4 linked regions of the Homo sapiens genome follow. The protein of the gene in region 1 interacts with the protein of each later gene in a biochemical or structural test. Each region holds a gene or a part of one and is shown in the gene's direction. Other genes may lie near its edges.

What was found.
Region 2: the proteins of PCK1 (region 1) and IKBKG form a complex in vitro, tested with the Homo sapiens proteins (one study listed by BioGRID and IntAct).
Region 3: the proteins of PCK1 (region 1) and UBR5 form a complex in vitro, tested with the Homo sapiens proteins (2 studies listed by BioGRID, with this or other methods).
Region 4: the proteins of PCK1 (region 1) and AKT1 form a complex in vitro, tested with the Homo sapiens proteins (one study listed by BioGRID).

Annotation. Positions count from the first base shown.
Region 1 is NC_000020.11:57,556,520-57,564,489, forward strand, and holds the start of PCK1 (phosphoenolpyruvate carboxykinase, cytosolic [GTP]), read left to right. Parts: upstream 1-4,590; 5' UTR 4,591-4,684; intron 4,685-4,852; 5' UTR 4,853-4,892; coding exon 4,893-5,116; intron 5,117-5,551; coding exon 5,552-5,733; intron 5,734-6,176; coding exon 6,177-6,380; intron 6,381-6,508; coding exon 6,509-6,696; intron 6,697-7,045; coding exon 7,046-7,208; intron 7,209-7,649; coding exon 7,650-7,874; intron 7,875-7,962; coding exon 7,963-7,970. UniProt on the Homo sapiens protein: Cytosolic phosphoenolpyruvate carboxykinase that catalyzes the reversible decarboxylation and phosphorylation of oxaloacetate (OAA) and acts as the rate-limiting enzyme in gluconeogenesis.
Region 2 is NC_000023.11:154,557,172-154,564,896, forward strand, and holds part of IKBKG (NF-kappa-B essential modulator), read left to right. Parts: intron 1-1,360; coding exon 1,361-1,479; intron 1,480-3,235; coding exon 3,236-3,388; intron 3,389-4,516; coding exon 4,517-4,613; intron 4,614-5,638; coding exon 5,639-5,782; intron 5,783-6,387; coding exon 6,388-6,530; intron 6,531-6,787; coding exon 6,788-6,849; intron 6,850-7,147; coding exon 7,148-7,290; 3' UTR 7,291-7,725. UniProt on the Homo sapiens protein: Regulatory subunit of the IKK core complex which phosphorylates inhibitors of NF-kappa-B thus leading to the dissociation of the inhibitor/NF-kappa-B complex and ultimately the degradation of the inhibitor.
Region 3 is NC_000008.11:102,251,554-102,256,206, reverse strand, and holds the end of UBR5 (E3 ubiquitin-protein ligase UBR5), read left to right. Parts: intron 1-1,692; coding exon 1,693-1,905; 3' UTR 1,906-3,934; downstream 3,935-4,653. UniProt on the Homo sapiens protein: E3 ubiquitin-protein ligase involved in different protein quality control pathways in the cytoplasm and nucleus. Mainly acts as a ubiquitin chain elongator that extends pre-ubiquitinated substrates.
Region 4 is NC_000014.9:104,768,337-104,771,961, reverse strand, and holds the end of AKT1 (RAC-alpha serine/threonine-protein kinase), read left to right. Parts: intron 1-1,114; coding exon 1,115-1,217; intron 1,218-1,541; coding exon 1,542-1,621; 3' UTR 1,622-2,613; downstream 2,614-3,625. UniProt on the Homo sapiens protein: AKT1 is one of 3 closely related serine/threonine-protein kinases (AKT1, AKT2 and AKT3) called the AKT kinase, and which regulate many processes including metabolism, proliferation, cell survival, growth and angiogenesis.

The DNA of each region.
Region 1 (7,970 bases):
AGGCATGCGCCACCATGCCAGGCTAATTGTTTGTATTTTTAGTAGAGATGGGGTTTCTCCGTGTTGGTCAGGCTGGTCTCAAATTCCTGACCTCAGGTGATCCGCCTGCCTCAGCCTCCCATAGTCCTGGGATTACAGACGTGAGCCTCCGCACCCGGCCCAGAATTTCTGTTCTTTTATTGGCCTCCAGGTAACCAAGAAACACCAACATGTGTTGCAATCAGACTGTCCTCTGAATCCTCCACTGTGAGACCCCGCCAAAGTCATGGCTTTGTTTTCTGTTGTTCATCTGGAATGCAGCCATTCCCCACACCCACCTCCCCGGTCACACCTGCTGCATCTTGGCTGTCCCTGCGCGTGTTTTCTGCTGTCTTTGTCACTGCTCCATCCTGCATGGCATTCTACAGGCTCGTCAAAGTCCAGTTCACCCACTCTTCCAGAACCCTTCATGGTAGGCTGCTGGGAGAAATTGGGCTACAGTCCATCACAGGTGCAAAATGACACCTGAGAGGTGGCCCTGTCACTGACCACTTCTTCCCCAACACATGCTCAGTAGACTAAGTGTGGTGGACAGGCGCACCCTGGCCTGGGGGACCCAGAGGACTTGTGTTTGGAACTCCCCTTGCTTCCTTGGGTCTGCCATGACTGTCTGGCCCCCTCCTGCAGGGGCCTTGTATGAGCAGTTCGAGGAACGTTCTCACTAACTGCAAAGCACTGTACCAATGTCTTGATTACATTTTAGATAGCAGACAGTGGCCCTGGCTCTCCCACTGGAACTGTCTATGTGGCACTTGGCCATGTACAACTTCTTTAATTGGACCATCATGTAGGTCTGATGATAAACCAAATACTCTAACATCAGGGTGGGGGTCTCCCCAACTCCATCTTAAGTCTTTGAGGAAATTGTTTCTTAGGCAAGATAGCTCCATAACTTGTGGGACCACGTGCAAAATACACAGGGCCCCTTGTTCAAAAAGGACAAAAAAAAAAAAAACCTGTGTTCCTTTCTCCCATGGTCTCTCTATCTGTTGTGGCATGTTTTGCATTTGCTGTTTGATGTTGCGCTCCCTTGGGCAGGGGATGCTCATGGGAATGAGTGCAGACCCTCATGGGCGCACAACTCTGACCTGACTTCCCTGCCCTTGTGCTCAGACCCTAGTCGGGGTGGAGGGCAGCAGTGGTCACCTAGCAGGAAGAGACAGGGGAGCGGGCAGCTGAGGCTCCATCCTTAGAAGCAGAAAGGCTGAGGGAGGCAGAACTGTACAAGAGCCACGCCGCGTGCCCCATCATCCCTTCAAATGTAGAAGTGACACAAACTTAGAAGATCACTATGAATTTCAAGACAGTGACCCCAGAGCATGAAACTCCAAGAGAAGAGCCCCCTTCCAAGAGTGAGGCATGCTCTTGAGACTATGAAGTGGACCCTAGGATCAGTATGAAGTAGGTGCTCAGCAAGTGCTTGATGACTATGTGCTGGGAGTATAGACAGGAAAAGGACTCTCAGTTTGAGGACACATCTAGAGAACTGGCAATAGTAGCTGCTCATTCACTGTTGAAGGAATGAATATGATTCCTTTCTCGACCCTCGTCTATACCCAGCTGGGTTGAGACCCTCAGTTTCCTCATCTATAAAATGGGAAAGATAACAAAGGTACCTACATCGGAGAAAATCATGGAATGCATCCCATTTCTGGCATGCAGAGAAAGCCCAGTATTATGAAGATTATTATGCCCGGTGCTAGAGACATAGCAAGCATTTAATAAACGTTTGAGCTGAGGCTTCCTAGAGAATATGAGATTGCAGCAAATTGGATGCAAAACTTCTCTTTACCTTTTTAAATCCGTCTAATTATCTCGTATCAGGATATAGCTGGTGTGGTCACAAAGCAGGGAAAAAGCAATCGATATCCCTGAGTAACTGCAAAACATGGAGTGGCCCCAGGAAGGTGCAGGGAGGAAGTCCCTTTTAGTTTGAAACTATTTTAGTGTCCGATCTTTCTTTCTCCTTCTTTCCCCAATTTTGTATCTGGGCTCAACTTTTTATACATTTTTCAAAAGAAGAGCAGCCTTGGACCTAAGAAAATCTGAGCCTAAGGAGCTCCCCAAAAGCTAGGAGGTCTCTATGGCATCCGTCCCAGAAACAACTAACGCAACTCACAGGCAGCGTGAGCCACCTCCATGCCCCACCCACTGAGCACACACTGCAAAGTCCACTCGGCGGGTTAACTGGGGGTCCTCAGGGATCCCACCAGCAGGGTGGCTGTTTGGCTGCTTCTTCGGGTCCCTGTTGAAACCAACAGACAGTAGTTAGTTTTGAGGCTTACTTACAAATAAGCTGACAGTCAGATGAGGAAGACCCATGCTTCCGGCCAGCCCCTTGAAATTGTTGTCAATGAGTCCCCACTGGGGCAGGGAGTCTCTAAGGACAGGAAAAATGGGGGCCCGAGGGCATCATCTGCCAAGACCTAAGGCAACTGTACCCATACTTTTGCCTGTGTGTCCTCAAAACCCCTCTACTTTATCATGATTCTTCTTCCAGAGAACTCTGTCCTTTGAGGCAAGTCTGTAAACCAATGTTTGCTTTTTAACATTTTGACAAGGGACAGTTGCGGGGGAATCATTACCGTCCTTCCACGCTGTAAATGCAGGTAATGAAAGGATCGGATGAAGGTCGTTGGTGACTCACTGCTCTGACGTTTTACTTGAACTAGCTGTTTCTCTCCCAGAAGACTCAGAACATAAGCACCTGGAATGGATGGGTCGCATTTAGGACTCCAAATGAGTTCTGCTTTCCCTTTTTGTTTTCAATCTATGTGCTCTTTCAGGTACTCAAACCTGTTACCGTTTTATCAGCAAAATGGGACTTTCTACCAATTTGGTGGGATGAGTCTCGCCGGGAGTGATGTGTGTGTCACGGAATTGTGGTCATGCATCGGGATGGCTAATTCACTGATGTCAGATGCTAACGAAGTGGCCTCGGCTACTGAGCATCACGTCACTGTTGGGTTTAGACACAACACGATCTTATGTATGGATGACAGCACCACTAATAACAAATGCCAGTGACCTAAACGGGGAATAACTTCAAATGAAACAAAAAGCACCTCATATCATATTTATCCTGAAAGACACAACTGGCTGAATAAAATCTGAATACAGGAAACATAGCAATGGGTTGATAATTTTGGTGGAACTTGATGATGTGTGACCCACGCCCAACACAGTGTGACCCAAGCCCCCAGGAGGGTTCTCTAAGTGAGTTTGGTCGGAGGCTGCCATTCACAGTGACTTGTATTTGCCACAGCAGCTCTTTCTAAGCCCAGTCCTGGGATTATCTCAGGGATCATCCCACACCCCAGCGGGGAGATGGGCCAAGTCCCCACCTGACCTCATCTTAGGTAGAGAGGCTTCCATGGAAGTGTGGGCTGGCTGTGGGGGGTTGAGACCTAGCCCCGTTCTTTTGACATTTCACCCTGTGTTCTCCAAACTCCAGCAAGCAGCTTCCATAGCTCATTAAATTTGACTGAAGGTCTGATGGCTTGCAAAGCAAATTCTTTACAACTGTTATAAAGGTTTCATTGCTTAAGCATATAATCTAGCAAAACTGCCAAGCCCCCTCCACTCCCTAAACTCTAAGACTTGCCAGGGAAGAGAACAGTGGCCAGTGGACTGCAGGAGTAACTGCACTCAGCCCAGAACTCCCTGGAGGACACAGGGAAGGTTCTGGAAAGGTGGCGGTACCTCACAGGGAGAGACGTGGTGCTCCAGGGCCCAACTTGCTCATGTTCAGATCCTCACTCTGCAACCCACCAGCCGGCTGTGAGTGGCTACACAATCTCTGCCTCAGTTTCCCTATCTGTACATGGGTTGTTCATAGCCTCCACCTCAGAGGGTAGTAATGATGCCAAGCTCTTAGAACAGTGCTCAGCATGTGTGCATCCTGTGCCTACTCTATGCCAAGCACTACAGAGAGAAAAATGAACAAAATAGGGAGAAATCCCTGCCCTCATGGAGTTTACATCGGGGCAGGGGGCGGGGGCGGCACAGAGCAGACAATCAATACAGTGATTAGCCCCCAGTTAGGTTAGGCATTTCCAATCTTTGCCAATAAGCCACATATTTGCCCAAGTTAGGGTGCATCCTTCCCATGAACTTTGACTGTGACCTTTGACTATGGGGTGACATCTTATAGCTGTGGTGTTTTGCCAACCAGCAGCTCTTGGTACACAAAATGTGCTGCTAGCAGGTGCCCCGGCCAACCTTGTCCTTGACCCACCTGCCTGTTAAGAAAAGGGTGTTGTGTTTTGCAACAGCAGTAAAATGGGTCAAGGTTTAGTCAGTTGGAAGTTGTGTCAAAACTCACTATGGTTGGTTGAGGGCTCGAAGTCTCCCAGCATTCATTAACAACTATCTGTTCAATGATTATCTCCCTGGGGCGTGTTGCAGTGAGTTGGCCCAAAGCATAACTGACCCTGGCCGTGATCCAGAGACCTGCCCCCTGACGTCAGTGGCGAGCCTCCCTGGGTGCAGCTGAGGGGCAGGGCTATTCTTTTCCACAGTATTTAAAGCTGGGAGGTTCTGCCACCAAGCACGGCCTTCCCACTGGGAACACAAACTTGCTGGCGGGAAGAGCCCGGAAAGAAACCTGTGGATCTCCCTTCGAGATCATCCAAAGAGAAGAAAGGTAAGTAGAGCTTTGCATTTACATTTTGAAAAATTACAAAGATGAACTCATTTTTTTCCTGAGAGCAATAACTATTTGGCAATGCACAGCCCTGGCAAAAGGCCGTCGAATGTGTTTGAAGGTGTCTGTTGTTGTTTTTGTTCAGGACGCTTGCGTTTTCTATTTCAGGTGACCTCACATTCGTGCCCCTTAGCAGCACTCTGCAGAAATGCCTCCTCAGCTGCAAAACGGCCTGAACCTCTCGGCCAAAGTTGTCCAGGGAAGCCTGGACAGCCTACCCCAGGCAGTGAGGGAGTTTCTCGAGAATAACGCTGAGCTGTGTCAGCCTGATCACATCCACATCTGTGACGGCTCTGAGGAGGAGAATGGGCGGCTTCTGGGCCAGATGGAGGAAGAGGGCATCCTCAGGCGGCTGAAGAAGTATGACAACTGGTAAGCTCGGCCCCCGCTGCCTGTCCCAGCACCCTGCAGGCAGGGCTCCCCTGCGTCTCCTGGGAGTTGGTGGAGAAAGGTGAATGAAGGCCTTCGGGTAGTTTCAGACTCTTGAGAAGATGAATGCAATGGTCAGAACCATACAGACTTGAATTTTGTGACATTAGTGGGCCAGCCCAAGCTTTAAATGAGGTGTGTGCACAAAAGCTCTGCCAACTAGATTCCTGATTAAAAAAAAGGCAGCCCCTCTCCTACAGACCAGGTCCTAGTGGAGTAAATGTCCACCTGGCCATGTCTTAGATGGTCTGTGTGTTCACACTGATGGACTGTTGTTAGCGTGCTCAGCACTCTGCTAGGCATGGAAAGCCACGGTACTGAAGGAGATGGTTCGCTGCCCGTGGTGCTTGGCTGAAAGGAAGCCTGTGATTTTTGCAGCTGGTTGGCTCTCACTGACCCCAGGGATGTGGCCAGGATCGAAAGCAAGACGGTTATCGTCACCCAAGAGCAAAGAGACACAGTGCCCATCCCCAAAACAGGCCTCAGCCAGCTCGGTCGCTGGATGTCAGAGGAGGATTTTGAGAAAGCGTTCAATGCCAGGTTCCCAGGGTGCATGAAAGGTGAGCGGAACATTGATTTGATTGGGTAAAACAGCAGAGAGCCTTTTCTTATTTACATCTATCCTAATGGTAATTCAAACAATAATGGAAGCTCCCACCACCTCAGATGTCTTTCAGTTCCATACATGAAGTTGGCAATGTATTGAAAATGCACATCCCTCTTCTGCTTTTACAGACTGTCTTATACAAACGTGAAAACTAGTTCCATGCATATGGGTTTTAAATAGCTTGGTGGGACCCAATTGCACATTTATGAAAACTCTTTAATTTCAGCAGGCTGTTCACTTTCCAGTGGCCTCTTCTAACCCAGGGGGCTGGTGACCAGCAGGGTGTGGTGGTGTTAGTGGAACACCGTGAAAATGGGTCTACCTGGGAAAAAAATGCTGGTCGTGTTCGAAGTCCAAGGTCATTTCTCACCAGTGCCCACCCATCGCACCCTGTAGGTCGCACCATGTACGTCATCCCATTCAGCATGGGGCCGCTGGGCTCGCCTCTGTCAAAGATCGGCATCGAGCTGACGGATTCACCCTACGTGGTGGCCAGCATGCGGATCATGACGCGGATGGGCACGCCCGTCCTGGAAGCAGTGGGCGATGGGGAGTTTGTCAAATGCCTCCATTCTGTGGGGTGCCCTCTGCCTTTACAAAGTAAGTGTATTATTTCAGAATCAAAAGTCAAAATAAAAAAGAAAGCTGAACGCAAACCCCAGTGAGTGCCTCGGGGACCCCCAAGCAGGGCCCTGGCGCACTGACTTGGGAGGGGTCCTTGTTCACAGAGCCTTTGGTCAACAACTGGCCCTGCAACCCGGAGCTGACGCTCATCGCCCACCTGCCTGACCGCAGAGAGATCATCTCCTTTGGCAGTGGGTACGGCGGGAACTCGCTGCTCGGGAAGAAGTGCTTTGCTCTCAGGATGGCCAGCCGGCTGGCCAAGGAGGAAGGGTGGCTGGCAGAGCACATGCTGGTGAGCCTGCAGGAAGCCCTGATGTGCAGATGAGAGGCCTGGGGGGTGGCAGAAACAAACAGCATTACAGTTCCCACCCGTCAGCACACCTCTCTGAGCGTGCAGGTTCCCGGACAGATCGGGAAACCCCACCAGTAATGATTAGTTTACACATATACATCGCTTTTGAAGGCCCCCAAACACCAGGGGACCATAGAGATCCTTTGGACTTCATGATTCTGGGAGTGTTTGTTTGCACTGATACCTGAAGAAATAGATCTTGAGGGCCTACATTCCAACCTCTGGGCTGAAGTACCAACCTCGGGGAGAAGGAAACAAAGATCACAATAAAGAATCTTGTCCCCAACAGATTCTGGGTATAACCAACCCTGAGGGTGAGAAGAAGTACCTGGCGGCCGCATTTCCCAGCGCCTGCGGGAAGACCAACCTGGCCATGATGAACCCCAGCCTCCCCGGGTGGAAGGTTGAGTGCGTCGGGGATGACATTGCCTGGATGAAGTTTGACGCACAAGGTGACTCTTTTAGACCCAACTCTTGGTAACGATTGGACTCAAGCGAATCGTTGGCCTTCGAAACATGTCACATTCTCCTCAGTCCAGTGTTTGGATTTTTAAACTCTGTTAGTCCAGAGTTGGCCAAGCCTTAGAAATATGGATCCTGTAAGAATTCTTCAACTTAATATTCAATCTGGATTGAAACTGGGCCATATGTTGCTGTTTGTTTACATACATACATTTGTTTAAATGGTATTGGTGGAAAATTGTGGAGGAAGCAAGAGTCGTAAACGTATCAAAGTTGCATATGATGCTTGGATGAAAAGAGATAAATGCATATTCTAGGGAGGGAAAAAAGATTTGAGAAGTTGGCATAGAAATTAGTCCGGCAATATATAAGAGTATATGTTCTGCTTTGCCTGGCACTCACTACTGCTTCTCTGGTTTAAAACTCTCCAGGTCATTTAAGGGCCATCAACCCAGAAAATGGCTTTTTCGGTGTCGCTCCTGGGACTTCAGTGAAGACCAACCCCAATGCCATCAAGACCATCCAGAAGAACACAATCTTTACCAATGTGGCCGAGACCAGCGACGGGGGCGTTTACTGGGAAGGCATTGATGAGCCGCTAGCTTCAGGTGTCACCATCACGTCCTGGAAGAATAAGGAGTGGAGCTCAGAGGATGGTGTGTCCCTGCCAGAGGCCTTGGTGTGCCGGGCTGCAGGGACTGCCTGTTTGAGCCAGGCACTCACGAGCCTTTCTCTGTCTTATAGGGGAACCT
Region 2 (7,725 bases), on another chromosome or scaffold:
AGCCACAGAAACGCGTGGCCTCCCGCTTCTGGAGGCCTGGAGGCTGAGCTAGCGGTGGTGTCGGCAGGGTGGGCTCCCCGCCAGGGCCGCGAGGGAGCTGCCTTCCAGGCCTCTCCACGGCGCCGGGGGCCGCCGGCTGCACCTCTCCAGCCTCCATCTCCGTCATCCTGTGGCCTTGTCCCCGCGGGCCTCTGTGCCTGTCCTCCTCTTTTGACAAGAACACCGGAGATACACAAAGGTACACAAAAGCGGGCCTTTGTTCAAGCTGGCAAAAGAGATCTTCTTCAGAAACCCCTGCTTGCGGGGGAGAGAGCTGAGCTCCGTTCCCGCCCCAGCAGAGGCGGCCTGGCCTTGCGAAGGGAGAAGGAGGGAGTCGGGAGGGGGCGAGTGCAGGCTCAGGTGAAAGATGACGGGGCAGCCAGCGTCCTTGCCGCGAGGCCAGCCGTGTGTGGGAGCTGCCGGTGCTTACCAAGGTTGGGATGCTTCCGTCCCGTGGAGACTGGGAGACTGGGCCCCGCGCCTCCTGAGGTTTCCGTTTCCAAGGAGTGGCTGCGGGGCCCTCGGGAAAGCCCCTGGGTTGTGGGTGCTACACAGATGTCTCAAAGGGACAGGGTAAGCCCTTTGTAGTAAATGCTGTCAGAAAGGGAGGTCAGGTGTTGGCCGGAACAGACAGTACATGCTCTGGGCAGCCCTGAGCGTTTCCAGACGGGAACTCACTCAAAAGGGGGCTGGGGCGTCCCAGGGGCGCGGCCTTAGGCTCCCAGAGGCCCCGCGAGGTGGTGGCCGGGTGTCTTCGGGCAGGGGTTTGAGTGCAGTGTGCCTGCCGAGAGGTTCTGCAGTTCCCAGTGTTTAACAAAATTCAGTGTCCACTCTTGATCTGCACAAACTCTCCCATCCTGGCGGCCCCGGGTGTGGACTGGGGCCTGTGTTTACTTTGCCCTATTCGTGTCTGGCCTCCTTTTGTCCCAAGTCTCAGAGAGACGGAGAGAGATCCCCTGCTGGGGCTGTAGCTGCAAGGCCACCGGGTTCAGCCCTCGAGGCCTGCTTGCCGGGGCAGTGACTAAGCCGTTGACAACCTCAAGGCAGCTTTGTGCTCCTTCGTCTCTTTGGGGATCTCTTTTTGCCCCATCTGTGTGTCACCCTGTGGCAGAGGGTTAAGGTGGGCAGCTGGGGAGGGTTGGGTGGCCCTTGGGCTCATGAGGCCCTAGGGCACCCAGGTTTGGGGGTGCCGAGGGCAGGAAAAAAGGCCTCATGGCGCGCAGGCCTCAGCCGCTTGCGGGTTGCCCCGGGCTTGCGGATGGCAGGAGTGGGCCGCTGGGGAGAAAGCAGTGCTGACAGGAAGTGGCTTTTTATCCTGCAGCAGATGGCTGAGGACAAGGCCTCTGTGAAAGCCCAGGTGACGTCCTTGCTCGGGGAGCTGCAGGAGAGCCAGAGTCGCTTGGAGGCTGCCACTAAGGAATGCCAGGCTCTGGAGGGTCGGTGAGTCGGGGGAGCCGGCTCCGGAGACCCCTTCCAGGGTTTCCAAAAGCAATGAGGTGGGTTTAGGGGCCTCCAGGGTGCTCCTTGATGAGGATAGACCGGGGCAGGCTGCGTAAAGACGTCGGGGCAGACGTCGGGAGAGGTCTGGGCCAGGCATCCGGGACCTGGGTCCCAGCCGGCTCTCCGCACTCTGTGACCCTTTGATGGAGTTTGGATTATTTCCTTAGGAGGCATTCTGGGGGCCCCGAGCCCACACCCACAGTGTCTAGTTCTCTGGAAGGACTTCTGGGACCGGCGCACAGTCGCCCTCGTGGCTGAGGTTGATGACAGGGAAAAAGGCACAGGGCAGGAGCCGCCAGGGCAGGAGCCGTGGGGGGAGTTGGAGAAGCCCTGTCCCAGCCTCCCGCTGCCCTGCGAGCGGCACAGTGAGAAGCGCCTCCCACACGGGCCGTGTTCCTGCCCAGGGATGCCCGCTAGAGACTCAGCGCCCTGGGTGTTTACTGGGGGCAGGTCCTGTCAGCGCCCTCTGCCAGGCAGGTACCTAAATCCCCGACTCCCAGCAGCAGAGCGGGTGCTCACGTCAACCACGTTCTTCCTACAAATGGCCTAGGTGCAGGGACCGACCTGACCACTAGAGAAAGTGTCACTGTGGCAAGGGAACTTCACCAGCCAAGGGCCAACCTTGCCAGCCGGTGGCCTCAGGCCTGCTGGTTACTCTCTTTTGCAAAGGGGTCTTGGTTCTTGTGAGTGGGACCATTGGGTCAAAGGGCAGGGAGGTTTCTGTGGTTCTCATTCGGTCCTGCTTCTGCCCTCCAGACAGATGGATCAGCTGCCAGGGGGGCCCCAGCCATCCCAGCACAGTAGGCGGTCAAGGTGCACTTGGGGCAGCCAGCAGGGCAGAGGGGAGGGGAGCTTGACCCAGGCTCTGATGGGCAGAGGGAACCCGTGCAGGGTGTGGGGGCAGTATGCAGGCAGGCGCGGAGGGGAGAGCCAAGCAGCCAGGCCTGCCAGGCAGAGTTGGGGTGACTGGAGAAGGGCCGTGTCTGCCTGTGGCCAGAGGCCACCCAGGACCTGGACAGATGCACCCACCATTGTCCCTGCAGTGAGGCTGTGGAAGGGCTTGGTGTGGTGGGATGAGGCCAGACCCTGGAAACTGGAGGTTAAGGGAGCTGTAGGGGGGCAGGTGTGGGAACTGAGCATCCGAGCAGGTCGTCTGGGACTCCAGCAGAGCTCTGGGCAGCAGCAGGGATGGGGCCGAGGCCCGGTCTGCATTGAGCTCAGTGCTTGCACGCCCAGGTGGGCAGTCTCTCATTTTTGGAACAGCAGTCTCTCCTGACCCCCTCCACTGAGACTGCTTTTGCTGGGGCCCCCAGCAGTCCCCCAGTGGAACTCCACGGGCAGTTCCGAGGGCTCCTCTCACCTGGCCCCAGCACTGCGGGATGCAGGCGACCCCATCCTTTTCTCGGACCACCCCCTTCCCCTGGCTTCCAGGTCTCCTTGCCATCTGTACTTGGTCACCTGCTGGGCCCCTGCATTGAAGCAAACACGTCTTAAGCAAAGCTCCTCACCTGCTGCTCCCACCTGGCCCCCTGCAGTTGTCCTCGTGTCTGTTGACGGTGCCTCCACCCTGCCGCCTGGCATCAGCTCGCAGTCACAGGGTGTTCAGAGCCGACCCCCACCCCCCGCCCACGCCCTGCGCATAGCCCCTGCCGTCCCCCCGTTCGTCCTCCCTGAGTCTGCTCTTTCCCCGTGCCAGGGCCCGGGCGGCCAGCGAGCAGGCGCGGCAGCTGGAGAGTGAGCGCGAGGCGCTGCAGCAGCAGCACAGCGTGCAGGTGGACCAGCTGCGCATGCAGGGCCAGAGCGTGGAGGCCGCGCTCCGCATGGAGCGCCAGGCCGCCTCGGAGGAGAAGTGAGTCAGCGGGGGCGGGGCCGCACCGCAGGGTCTGTGGTTCTACACTTGATCTTAGCCGAAAGGCTGAGAAGTGTCGGGTCCATGGTTCTTTCTGCCTTCTGAGGACTCCTTCAGATTCTGCCTGTGGCTGTGGGCCCATTCTGTCCCTTAGCCTTGCTAACGGTAGAGGCGACCATGATGACACCCGGTTTGTCTTTGATACAGTCATGCCATCTGCTCTCCAGACCACGTTTCACTGCGTGTCCACACGTGGCCTTTTTTGTAGTTTTTTTTTCCTAGCCACTAGGTCATCAGGGGACTTGTCCTTTAAAACCCCTTCTAGGCCAGGTGCTGTGGCTCACGCCTGTAATCCCAACACTTTGGGAGGCCAAAGTGGGTAGATGGCTTAAGCCCGGGAGTTCCAAGACCAGCCTGGGCAACAGAAAGACAACAAAAATACCCCCAAACCCCCCCGTCTACCAGCATCCAATCTGGGACCTCAGGTTCCTGTCCTTGGCGTGCCTTTTCAGTCTCCTTTAATCTAGAACAGTTCCCCTGCCTTTCTGAGCTGTTTGTGAAGTTCACAGTTTTGAACAGTGCAGGGTAGTTCCATTGTATTATTACTATTATTTTCAAGACAGGGTCTTGCTCTACCGTCCAGGCTGGAGTGCAGTGGCATAATCTCGGCTTACTGTACCTTCCGCCTCTTGGTCTCAAGCGATCCTCCCAGGTAGCTGGGACTATAGGCGCAGGCCAGCACACCTGGCTAATTTTTGCATTTTTGGTAGAGGTGGCGTTTTCCTATGTTGCCCGGGCTGGTCTTGAACTCCTGAGCTCAAGCGATCCTCCTGCCTTGGCTTCTCAAAGTGTTGGGATTATGGGCGTGAGCCACCGCGTCTGGCCGCGATTTTATTATAAACATTAAAAATACTAGCTTTTAGGAAAACGATATTAACTGCCTGGTGACCAGCCCACCAAAGCCTGCTTTAGAGTTGACGGCCTCAGGAGTCCTCACACAGCCTTGGAAGACCCCATTCCAGGCCTGTGATGCGAGGGAGGGAAGGAAGGGGGTAGAGTTGGAAGCAGGCAGCACCGTGGCTGGACTGGCATGAGGTGGTTTCTCCAGCAAAAGCTCCCTTTCCTCAGGAGGAAGCTGGCCCAGTTGCAGGTGGCCTATCACCAGCTCTTCCAAGAATACGACAACCACATCAAGAGCAGCGTGGTGGGCAGTGAGCGGAAGCGAGTGAGTGCGACCACTGGGGCTCTAGGGCTGGCCTTGCCTCTTCCTCTCCCCGTGGCCCTGAACCTTGAGAATGGGTAGACCTGCCTTAGACTTGCCTTAGACCTGTGTCAGGCTGCAGCTGCGACAGCTCAGGGAAGCTGTGGGGAGATGGCAACCCCAGGATGTTGCTCTCAGGAGTGTCAGCAGGCCATCTTAATGGGGGGCTGGGCCAGAGCCTTGGGGTGCTCCCTCTGTGGGGCTGGGGACGTCTTGTCTCCATGGACATTCCCTCTTGCCAGCCATCGCCATCTGGCACCTGGCTCAGCTTCCCCCAAGCCAAGGTAAGCCCGACAGCATTTCCACCCCAGTGTTGGCTGGGAGCCTTTTCCTAGTTTGTCCTCATCAGACCTAAGCTGGGGTGCAGTTTGCTAGTGATCACATTTTAGCAGGACACCGTCAATCGTAAGTGTACCCAGAGGAGATTTATAAGGACAAAGCCTGAAGCCAGGTCACATGGGGAAGAGTTAGCTACAAAACTGGCCACTTAATCTCTGGAGGGGGGCGTTGGTGGGGTGTGTCTGTGTGTGTCTCAGGGGGCTGGAGATGCCTGCGTGGGAGGAGTGCACCTCTGACCAGGTGGCAGAGTGGAAGGACTGAGGGCTCTCAGCTGAGCTGTGCACATGGCGGGCACAGGACCGGCTGGCTGTGAGTGGGTGTGGCCTGTGGCCTGTGAAGGGTGGGAGGAGGGCTGTGGAGCTGGGGATTCTGGGAAGGGAATGTCGGCCCAGCTGGGAGGTTGTACCAGATGACCTCAGCGGCCTCTTCAGTCCTGAAAAAAACCTCAGCATCTCCTCTGTCGTTTTGGGCCGTGACAGGACGCAGCCATCTCCCTGTGCACGCTGAGATCCTGCAATGGGCCCTCAAATCAGGGGCTGGCATCACCCAGCCTGGTCAGCCAGGGCCACTCTTTCATCCTTCTCAGTTCTTCTCAGCCAGCCTCGCCCTGGGCTGACGAGGCTCCGTCAGCTCCCCTTGCCCGTCCTTAGGGAATGCAGCTGGAAGATCTCAAACAGCAGCTCCAGCAGGCCGAGGAGGCCCTGGTGGCCAAACAGGAGGTGATCGATAAGCTGAAGGAGGAGGCCGAGCAGCACAAGATTGTGATGGAGACCGTTCCGGTGCTGAAGGCCCAGGTGAGGGCCCTCCTCTCTGACCCACCCTGGCACTGGGACCTGGAGAGTCTCTTTGGCGTCTTTTTTTTTTTTTTTGCTTTTGCTTTTTGAGATTGAGTTTTGCTCTTGTTGCCCAGGCTGGAGTGCCACTAGTGGCACGATCTTGGCTCACTGCAACCTCTGCCTCCCGGGTTCAAACAATTCTCTTGCCTCAGCCTCCTGAGTAGCTGGGATTACAGGCGCCTGCCGCCATGCCCGTCTAATTTTTGTATTTTTAGTAGAGACAGGGTTTCACCATGTTGGCCCAGCTGGTCTCGAACTTCTGGCCTCAGGTGATCTGCCCACCGCAGTCTCTCAAAGTTCTGGGATTACAGGCGTGAGCCACCGCACCCGGCCTCTTTGGCATCATTTTGTAGTGGCCTTTCGTAAGCTTCTGAGCCACTTGTGCTGCTCCTTAGACCTCTCGGTGAGCTTGGCATTACTCGCCGACGTATCTGTTTCCTCTGCGCCGCTGGGGGCTCTGGGAGGACAGCAGTGGGTTCTGCTTTGTTCCTGTGGTGCCTGGCGCAGTGCCTGGTGGGTGGCTGGCTTGTGGCGGGCACATCCCTTTCTGTTGGATTTGCCAGGCGGATATCTACAAGGCGGACTTCCAGGCTGAGAGGCAGGCCCGGGAGAAGCTGGCCGAGAAGAAGGAGCTCCTGCAGGAGCAGCTGGAGCAGCTGCAGAGGGAGTACAGCAAACTGAAGGCCAGCTGTCAGGAGTCGGCCAGGTGGGCCTCTGAGAGCGTGCCCGTGTGAGCAGTGGGTGCGACACTGGGGGGTCGCCAGTGGTGACCCCGCAGTGGGTGCGACACTGGGGGGTTGCCAGTGGTGACCACAGGAGACGGATGGCTCCTGGTGTTCTGGGTTAGGGCTCACTGTGGTCCCTCTCCTCTCACCTGAGCTTCCAAGAGCTGCTTTGACACTAGTCCAGCCAAGGAGCTTTACAGAAATGCGTGGCTTGACTGGACGGTTTCTGTTTCCAAAGGATCGAGGACATGAGGAAGCGGCATGTCGAGGTCTCCCAGGCCCCCTTGCCCCCCGCCCCTGGTGAGTGAGCGAGAACTGGGCCTGCGGGAGGAGGTGGGTGGGGAGGGCAGGTGCTGCGCCGCGGGAGGTCACAGTTCGACCTTCCTGTTGCTCTCTGGAGACTTGACGGCGGGAGCTCGTGTAGGCCACCCCATCGGTAGCCCACCCCCTTCCCCGAGGCTAAGGGAGGCATGCCGTGGTAGCGGCGGCTCCTGGTCTTACATGAGTGGCCTGTGAGACCAGGCCTGCCATTGACAGTCCTGCCAAGTCTCCGTCCCCCTCCATCCTCCCCTTCCCTCTGACTCTTCTCTTTTCCCAGCCTACCTCTCCTCTCCCCTGGCCCTGCCCAGCCAGAGGAGGAGCCCCCCCGAGGAGCCACCTGACTTCTGCTGTCCCAAGTGCCAGTATCAGGCCCCTGATATGGACACCCTGCAGATACATGTCATGGAGTGCATTGAGTAGGGCCGGCCAGTGCAAGGCCACTGCCTGCCGAGGACGTGCCCGGGACCGTGCAGTCTGCGCTTTCCTCTCCCGCCTGCCTAGCCCAGGATGAAGGGCTGGGTGGCCACAACTGGGATGCCACCTGGAGCCCCACCCAGGAGCTGGCCGCGGCACCTTACGCTTCAGCTGTTGATCCGCTGGTCCCCTCTTTTGGGGTAGATGCGGCCCCGATCAGGCCTGACTCGCTGCTCTTTTTGTTCCCTTCTGTCTGCTCGAACCACTTGCCTCGGGCTAATCCCTCCCTCTTCCTCCACCCGGCACTGGGGAAGTCAAGAATGGGGCCTGGGGCTCTCAGGGAGAACTGCTTCCCCTGGCAGAGCTGGGTGGCCGCTCTTCCTCCCACCGGACACCGACCCGCCCGCCGCTGTGCCCTGGGAGTGCTGCCCTCTTACCATG
Region 3 (4,653 bases), on another chromosome or scaffold:
CTCAGCCTCCCGAGTGGCTGGGACTACAGGTGCCTGCCACCACGCCTGGCTAATTTTTTGTATTTTTAGTAGAGACAGGGTTTCACCATGTTAGCCTGGATGATCTCGATTTCCTGACCTCATGATCCGCCTGTCTTGGCCTCCCAATTCTGCCGTTTTTAAACCAGTATTTCCTCAGTCCAGTCAGCCAACTTAAATCTCATGAGTTTCTGCCTTCTACTGAAAGAAAAATTTGCTAGTGACTCAATCTTAGAAAAAAGAAAATCTCCTTCTATAAAGACCTCAAAATTTCCTGTCAACAGCTTTAGTTTGTGAACCTTAAACTCTTATTGAAAATCTATGTTTAGGGTGTAAGCAGTTTATCATGGTATCTTCCTCCCCCTTACCCTTCTCCTCTTTTTGGGAAGTCATCCTTCACATATTGTTTGGTTTCATCCTGATGCATCTAGAGGACATAAGAATGGGGTTTCTGAAACAGTTCTCCCATGAATTAATTAGTCCTGCAACTTATAGGGTTTCCAGAGTTATTGGGTAAACTACAGTTTATTTCCCTCTTGGAGTGTTATAATTCACTAGTAAAAGTATTTCTCTTCCAACTTCTTAGAGATCCAGCAGTGAGGTCATCTACCCTGGTTAACCACATTCATCCTTGGAGAAACACTTTATATTAAGCTTGTTTCTTATCTATGAAATGAGTGGTTTAGATCAACTTCATCTCTAGAGTACCTGTTTTCTATTTCTTTTCAGATTTTATAGATCCTGATACTTAACTTTTTTTTTTTTTTTCTGTCCCTTTATATAGAATTCTAGATGAGCTTTCCCATACAACTGTGCTTCAGGAAATCTTAAGTTTGTTTAGGTTTCCTAGTCATTCTAGGAAATTGGATATACTTCATTGTTGTGCATTATAAAATGATTAGATTAAAAAAAAAGCTTTTCCTTAAGAGAGACAGACACTGAAGAATGATGCGTATGTATGAAGGGATGGATTGATGAGGAATGTTACATGTTCAGCAAACTATTTCAGGGAGGCATATCCTTGGTTAAGTTAAAAAGTGTAAGTTCACATTTACTGAGCATCATTTACACTGTGTTGCACAAAGTTTTATTACAGAGGTATGATAAAACTTAGTGTTAATATGGCTTATTGCATGAATTTTGATGCATAGATAGATGTTCCCCAATAATTACTATTATAAAATGATTCTGTATCACAATGTAGCAGTAAATACTTTTTTTGCTTTATTATTTTATTATTTGCATTATTTTGCTCCTTAATGCAAAATAACTTTTTAAGATAACCTGTGTGAGTTTTGAACCTAAGACCGTATCTTTTGTTTGGCAGCCTTTTTTCCACTAATAGACACTTTATGGAATTAGCTGCAAGAAAGGCTCTTAGAAACCATTTAGTCCAACAGCCTCATGTTACAGATGAAAATACTGAGGCTCTGTGACAGAAAGTCACCTTTTTTTCCTCTACTAACTCTAGACTTACTCCTTTGGGGAAAAAAAACAAAAACAAAAACCTGTCTTGAGGTATGAATGATCCCTTTCCTTTTTAGTACAAGAAAATATATTTAAAATCCAGTTCAAAATAATATCTCCTTTTAGGTTATTAACATAACAATAGGGCTTTGTGTATATACTGCCAGAGTTAAGAGTTAAATATTAACCTGTTAAATTCCTGTTCAGGTTTACTTTTGGACATCAAGCCCATCACTGCCAGCCAGTGAAGAAGGATTCCAGCCTATGCCCTCAATCACAATAAGACCACCAGATGACCAACATCTTCCTACTGCAAATACTTGCATTTCTCGACTTTACGTCCCACTCTATTCCTCTAAACAGATTCTCAAACAGAAATTGTTACTCGCCATTAAGACCAAGAATTTTGGTTTTGTGTAGAGTATAAAAAGTGTGTATTGCTGTGTAATATTACTAGCAAATTTTGTAGATTTTTTTCCATTTGTCTATAAAAGTTTATGGAAGTTAATGCTGTCATACCCCCCTGGTGGTACCTTAAAGAGATAAAATGCAGACATTCCTTGCTGAGTTTATAGCTTAAAGGCCTAAGGAGCACTAGCAACATTTGGCTATATTGGTTTGCTAGTCACCAACTTCTGGGTCTAACCCCAGCCAAAGATGACAGCAGAACAACATAATTTACACTGTGATTTATCTTTTTGCTGAGGGGGAAAAAATGTAAATGTTCTGAAAATTCACTGCTGCCTTTGTGGAAACTGTTTCAGCAAAGGTTCTTGTATAGAGGGAATAGGGAATTTCAAAATAAAAAATTAAGTATGTTCTGTGTTTTCATTTTAACTTTTTTTATGGTGTTTAATTTGTGGTTGGCTGCAACTGTGTATCATGTATATGGAACTTGTAAAAAAGTTCTCGACATTCAGATCTTAAGAGATGAAATCACTTTTACCTATAAAAACCACTTTTATTGCGGTTTGACTGCATTGAGCTCTAGGATATTAAATGATATCACTAATATTTTGCATGTAATTTGCTCATTTGAGTGAGGGCACTTTTTTTGTACATATGATGGGGCCAATGCACAATACTTTTATCACAATCAACTTTTTCTTTGTATCCCTATTTCAATGAGCAGTCAGTCTCAAGAGGTTACTGCACTTCAGTTCTAACTAGACATTTGTACTAAGGTATTTCAGTTATGTAAACTCAGCCTGGGCACTTTCTGATAACTGTAAAATGTTTTATAAGATCATGATTATTGAAGATACATTTTGGAAAATTTTAAATGTTCGTGAGCAGCTTAACTACTTTTGTATCTAGCCTTTTTTAAGTATCTTGTTACATTTACTTTTTTAAATAAAGAAATTACAGAAGAAATGTCAAGTAATATTGAAGAAACAATAGTTTTTATTTATGTAGTTGTACATTTTTAAACTAAGGGCAATACACTGACATGGTTATGTGCATAAAAATTTTGACTTAAAGAACTGGAAGTTTATATACACCTGGACTATAAGAAACAGAAGAAAATCAGTCCACATTTTACAGTTAGCAGAGAATCCTAAATGGCACTGGCCTGGCCACCTTTTCATTTTACAAATGGGGGAAGTGAAGTGTGACCCCTTACTTGGCATAGGAAGTTAACTTACACCTAATAACTGACAGGTTTTTGTTTTGATGACCTATTAATTATGTAGCCTAGGATTAATATCCCAAAATTACTCTGGTTTAAGTAGCTTTATTCAGTGGCATAATAACACTGTTTTCTTCCTTAAGTCTTCAATGAAGTGACTTAAAACAGTCACTTTACATATTAAAAATGAGGAGAGCAATTCTCTGGAATCTCTCCTTTCAGTTCCTTTGTAGGATTTCTGGCCTTGAGGATAGTCTTCATGTTCAAAGGCACTATGCTTTTATTATATAACTTCCTTCAGAAGACTGAACCACATGATATTCTCAGCCCTGTTAACACTAAAAATATTTAAAACTGAATGATAGTAGTGACTCATTGTATTACTTAAAACTTATATAACACGCTGTATTAGATGTGTGTAAATTAGCCAAAGGTTATTTTACAAAGTGAGACATTGGTTTTTATGTCTAAATGCTATTTCTGAATAAATGAAATAGTAATTAGATCAAGAGCTGATTAGCATCAATGTGTTTGAAAGATATAAAATTTATACATCACCTTAACCTCTGTATGCACATGATGGGATTGATAAAATATTAAATGAGAACAAACTAGATATGATTAGGACATTTGAAACCCTAATTGTGAATTTATTTTTAATAGTTACTGAAATGAAAATATTTAAAATAATGCACAATGTCTTAAGTCTTCCTAAATCAAGATTTTGGTTAAAAAATACTTCTAATAATAGTAAAAGATTTTTTTTTTAAGTAAATCATAAAACGGTTCTAAATGTAAAATAAAGACATGTAAAATAAAGTTCTCTTTTGGTCTTGTTTAGTGTTTAAATCTAACAATTGAAAACAAATTTAGGAAGAGAAGACCAAGAATGAACTTTACTGAGTGTTTTCAGAGTTTGCTACTACTATTTTTTTCCCTAAATCATCTGGATACCAAGACTATCCAGTAAAATGGATAACTGGGGCAGACTTGAGAGGGTATTTTAAAGGAATGATTTCACTATTTAGTAGCTGCCCCCAAACAACATCCCTCCCATAAAGATACTATTTTTACATTTTAAAGGTAGTCAGCAATTCCTATGTTTAAACTCAAGTTGAGATAATCCCTTGAGGCAGTAGTTTCCATGCTTCTGTATGTTGTAAGATTCATTTGTAAAGTTTGTTAATGCAGATTCTTAAGCATTCCTCATCCTCTTGCCTCCTTTCTGATTCAGTAAGTCTTTGGTGGAGGCCAGGAATCTTCATGCAGATCATCCCAGGTGATTCTGAAACACTGCCCAAAGAATATTTCCTTTTTATTTACAAATATAAATGTCCCGCTGAAAGCTCCTGAGAGCCAAACCTTTCCTACTTAGAACTGCTTACAATCTATGGAAAAGTACATCTATTGATAAACTAGTCCTAGGTTGGATTCTTCCTACTGATAAGGGGCTGGTTGGAAGTGCCTTCAATAGACTGTGCTTGGGTAGTGAATGAAAATATTTTTACTGTTTATGTTAACCTATGTAAGTAGGCATA
Region 4 (3,625 bases), on another chromosome or scaffold:
CCTTCTGCCGCAAGGAGAGCCCAGCCCTATTTCTGGCTGTGCAGGGACAGGGACAGCACCTACTTTTCTGGCACATGGGGGAGTCCGCCCTGGAGGGAGGCAGCTCTTTCTGCATGAGTCGCCATCCTGGGTGCTCATCTTTCAGGGACCCTAGGAGCCCTGGCCATCACCCCAGCTGATGGGGTCTGCCAGCTGGGTTCGGAAGCCTGCACTCTGAGATGCTGGGTGCCCTGTCACCAGGTGTGCTTCTGCCCCGTTCCCAGCCTGCCCCTCCCCTGAATGCCTGTCCTAGGCTGTGTGCAGCTGGTCGGGCTGGGCAGCCCTGGGACCCAGCTGGGCACCTGTTCTCCCATTAACACAGGGTGCCCTGGTCCTGGTCCCCGTTCCTGCCTTGAGGCCTGCCACCCTCCTGCCCTGCCCTCCAAGGGTATGGGGGGCCTGGGCAGTGCTCAACCTCTGCCCAGCCTTGACCAGAGACCTTGCTAATTGACAATGGACAATGCTGGTGCCCAGCCCAGACTCTGGGGTGGGGCAGTGCTTGAGGGGGTCCTTGACTGTGGGACCTGAGGGGCTCTCTGGCAGCTCCTCACGTGTGCACATCACCTTATAGTCACCCTTCATCCTGGGTCATTGAGAGTCCTGTCTGCAGCCAGATGCCAGCAGGCTGTGGTCCTGTAGTCCCTGAGCCATGGAGGCAGGGTGGGCTCATCCTGTGCACCTTGTTCCACAGTCTCCCTCTTTCCCAATTTACAAGAAGACCAATAAGAAAAATAAGAAAACAAGAAAGAAAAAGGAAAAATAAAGTTATCACCTCCTGGTAGCAGGGAGGGTCTCTCAGAGCTGGGCTGCACTACCTCCTGTCGCCTGCTGGGGCTGCTGTGAGGGCAGCTTTGCGTCTCAGCTGTTGAGGGTTGTCTCCGTGCTCCTGCACCCCTCATGTCCCTCCCTCCCAGAGCTGCCTCTGTGGGGGGCTGGTGGCTTGCTGCTCTCTGACATCAGTCCTGCCTGGAGACCCCTTGGAGATCCAGGTGCTTTGAAGGTCTTGAGCACACTTGAGGGTGTGCTGGGAGTGGGGAGCGAAGCTCATGACTGTCCCGTCTGCCCACCTCTGCAGCTCAGCCCACCCTTCAAGCCCCAGGTCACGTCGGAGACTGACACCAGGTATTTTGATGAGGAGTTCACGGCCCAGATGATCACCATCACACCACCTGACCAAGGTGAGGGGCCACTGCCTGCCCCCGCCCACTCCCTTTTCTCTCCACACTCAGAGAGGCCTGCAGTGTTCAGCTTTTTTGGCTTCAGATGTTTTAAAATCTAAATATTTAAAAAGGTTCCTTTTGGAGAGTGCCAATGATCAGGGTGGGAGGCAGTGCTCTGAGGGCCCAGGTCCCTGTGTCAATCTGTGGGGCCCTGTCTCAGTTTCCTGGCAGTATGGCAGCGTGCTGGCCGTGCTTTAAGAGGTTGGCTTCCTACTGGAGCTGTGGGTGGGTGGAGGTGGCAGGGAGGTGGGGCACCGGGGTCTGAGCTGTCTACACCCACAGATGACAGCATGGAGTGTGTGGACAGCGAGCGCAGGCCCCACTTCCCCCAGTTCTCCTACTCGGCCAGCGGCACGGCCTGAGGCGGCGGTGGACTGCGCTGGACGATAGCTTGGAGGGATGGAGAGGCGGCCTCGTGCCATGATCTGTATTTAATGGTTTTTATTTCTCGGGTGCATTTGAGAGAAGCCACGCTGTCCTCTCGAGCCCAGATGGAAAGACGTTTTTGTGCTGTGGGCAGCACCCTCCCCCGCAGCGGGGTAGGGAAGAAAACTATCCTGCGGGTTTTAATTTATTTCATCCAGTTTGTTCTCCGGGTGTGGCCTCAGCCCTCAGAACAATCCGATTCACGTAGGGAAATGTTAAGGACTTCTGCAGCTATGCGCAATGTGGCATTGGGGGGCCGGGCAGGTCCTGCCCATGTGTCCCCTCACTCTGTCAGCCAGCCGCCCTGGGCTGTCTGTCACCAGCTATCTGTCATCTCTCTGGGGCCCTGGGCCTCAGTTCAACCTGGTGGCACCAGATGCAACCTCACTATGGTATGCTGGCCAGCACCCTCTCCTGGGGGTGGCAGGCACACAGCAGCCCCCCAGCACTAAGGCCGTGTCTCTGAGGACGTCATCGGAGGCTGGGCCCCTGGGATGGGACCAGGGATGGGGGATGGGCCAGGGTTTACCCAGTGGGACAGAGGAGCAAGGTTTAAATTTGTTATTGTGTATTATGTTGTTCAAATGCATTTTGGGGGTTTTTAATCTTTGTGACAGGAAAGCCCTCCCCCTTCCCCTTCTGTGTCACAGTTCTTGGTGACTGTCCCACCGGGAGCCTCCCCCTCAGATGATCTCTCCACGGTAGCACTTGACCTTTTCGACGCTTAACCTTTCCGCTGTCGCCCCAGGCCCTCCCTGACTCCCTGTGGGGGTGGCCATCCCTGGGCCCCTCCACGCCTCCTGGCCAGACGCTGCCGCTGCCGCTGCACCACGGCGTTTTTTTACAACATTCAACTTTAGTATTTTTACTATTATAATATAATATGGAACCTTCCCTCCAAATTCTTCAATAAAAGTTGCTTTTCAAATTTTTGGCTCACTTTGCTGGGTGGAAGAGTGGGTGGCCAGGGAGGGAGTGGGGAGTCCTGGGAGGGAAGCAGCATCCTCAGAGCAGCTGGTCCTCCCCAGCTCCTCCTGGTGGGCACCGCCACCCCAACAGGTTTGGGGACAGGCTGTGTGGTGGGCCGAGGCGGGAGTATACAGGCCTGTTCCCAGGGGCAGCCTCCCATGGAAGGTGTTCCACCCCCATCTCCAGAGGCCTGGCCTGAGGGGAGATGGGAGGCCCTGGCTGGCCCTGCCCCCGTTGGGATCCACCTCTTCTTCCCTTGACCCCACCCAGCTTCACCCCAGCCATGAAGGAGACCATTGGACCACGTGGCCATCTGCCCCCCAGCCCCAGGTGCTGTTCCCCTGGGTAGGGCAGTGAATGAGACAGACCACCAGGAAGGACAGATAGGGCAGGGCCCAGAGTTGGGGCCAAGGTCATGGCCTGGGCCACGGTGGAAGTAAGGCTGGGAGGCCTGAGTGGCCTGTTCGAAGCTGGACAGAGCGGGAGGAGGGGCTGCAGGCGGTGGGAGGAGGGGCTGCAGGGGGCGGGAGGGGACAGGCTGGGGCCCAGGTTACCCCAGAGCACTACATCGAGCTCTGAGCCGGAACAGCCTGCAGAATGTGCCGGTGCTGCCACCTGGTGGACGCCTGCCGGAACCGCGCCCTGAGCCAGGAGAGGAGTCCACTGCCGAGCAACTGACAGCGGGTTGGCGACCAGGTTCCGGGTGGTTGGGTGACCAGCACGAGCCAGGGGCCTGGAGCTTCAGCTTCCTCATCTCTCAAATGGACTCCCCGTAGGTGTGGATGGTTGCAGAGTCAGGCCCCTGGCGATGGCAATTGGCCCCTCTCTAAGGCATTCCCAGGGGTGCGTGGCTGCCCTCACTTCCACTGGAGGGGGTGCCCCATAGGGAGCACAGGCTGGCGAGGATGTTCTGGGTCTGTGGGAGCCAAGAACAGCCACATCTGGAGCAGCCCGAAGCTCTCCTCTGGGTG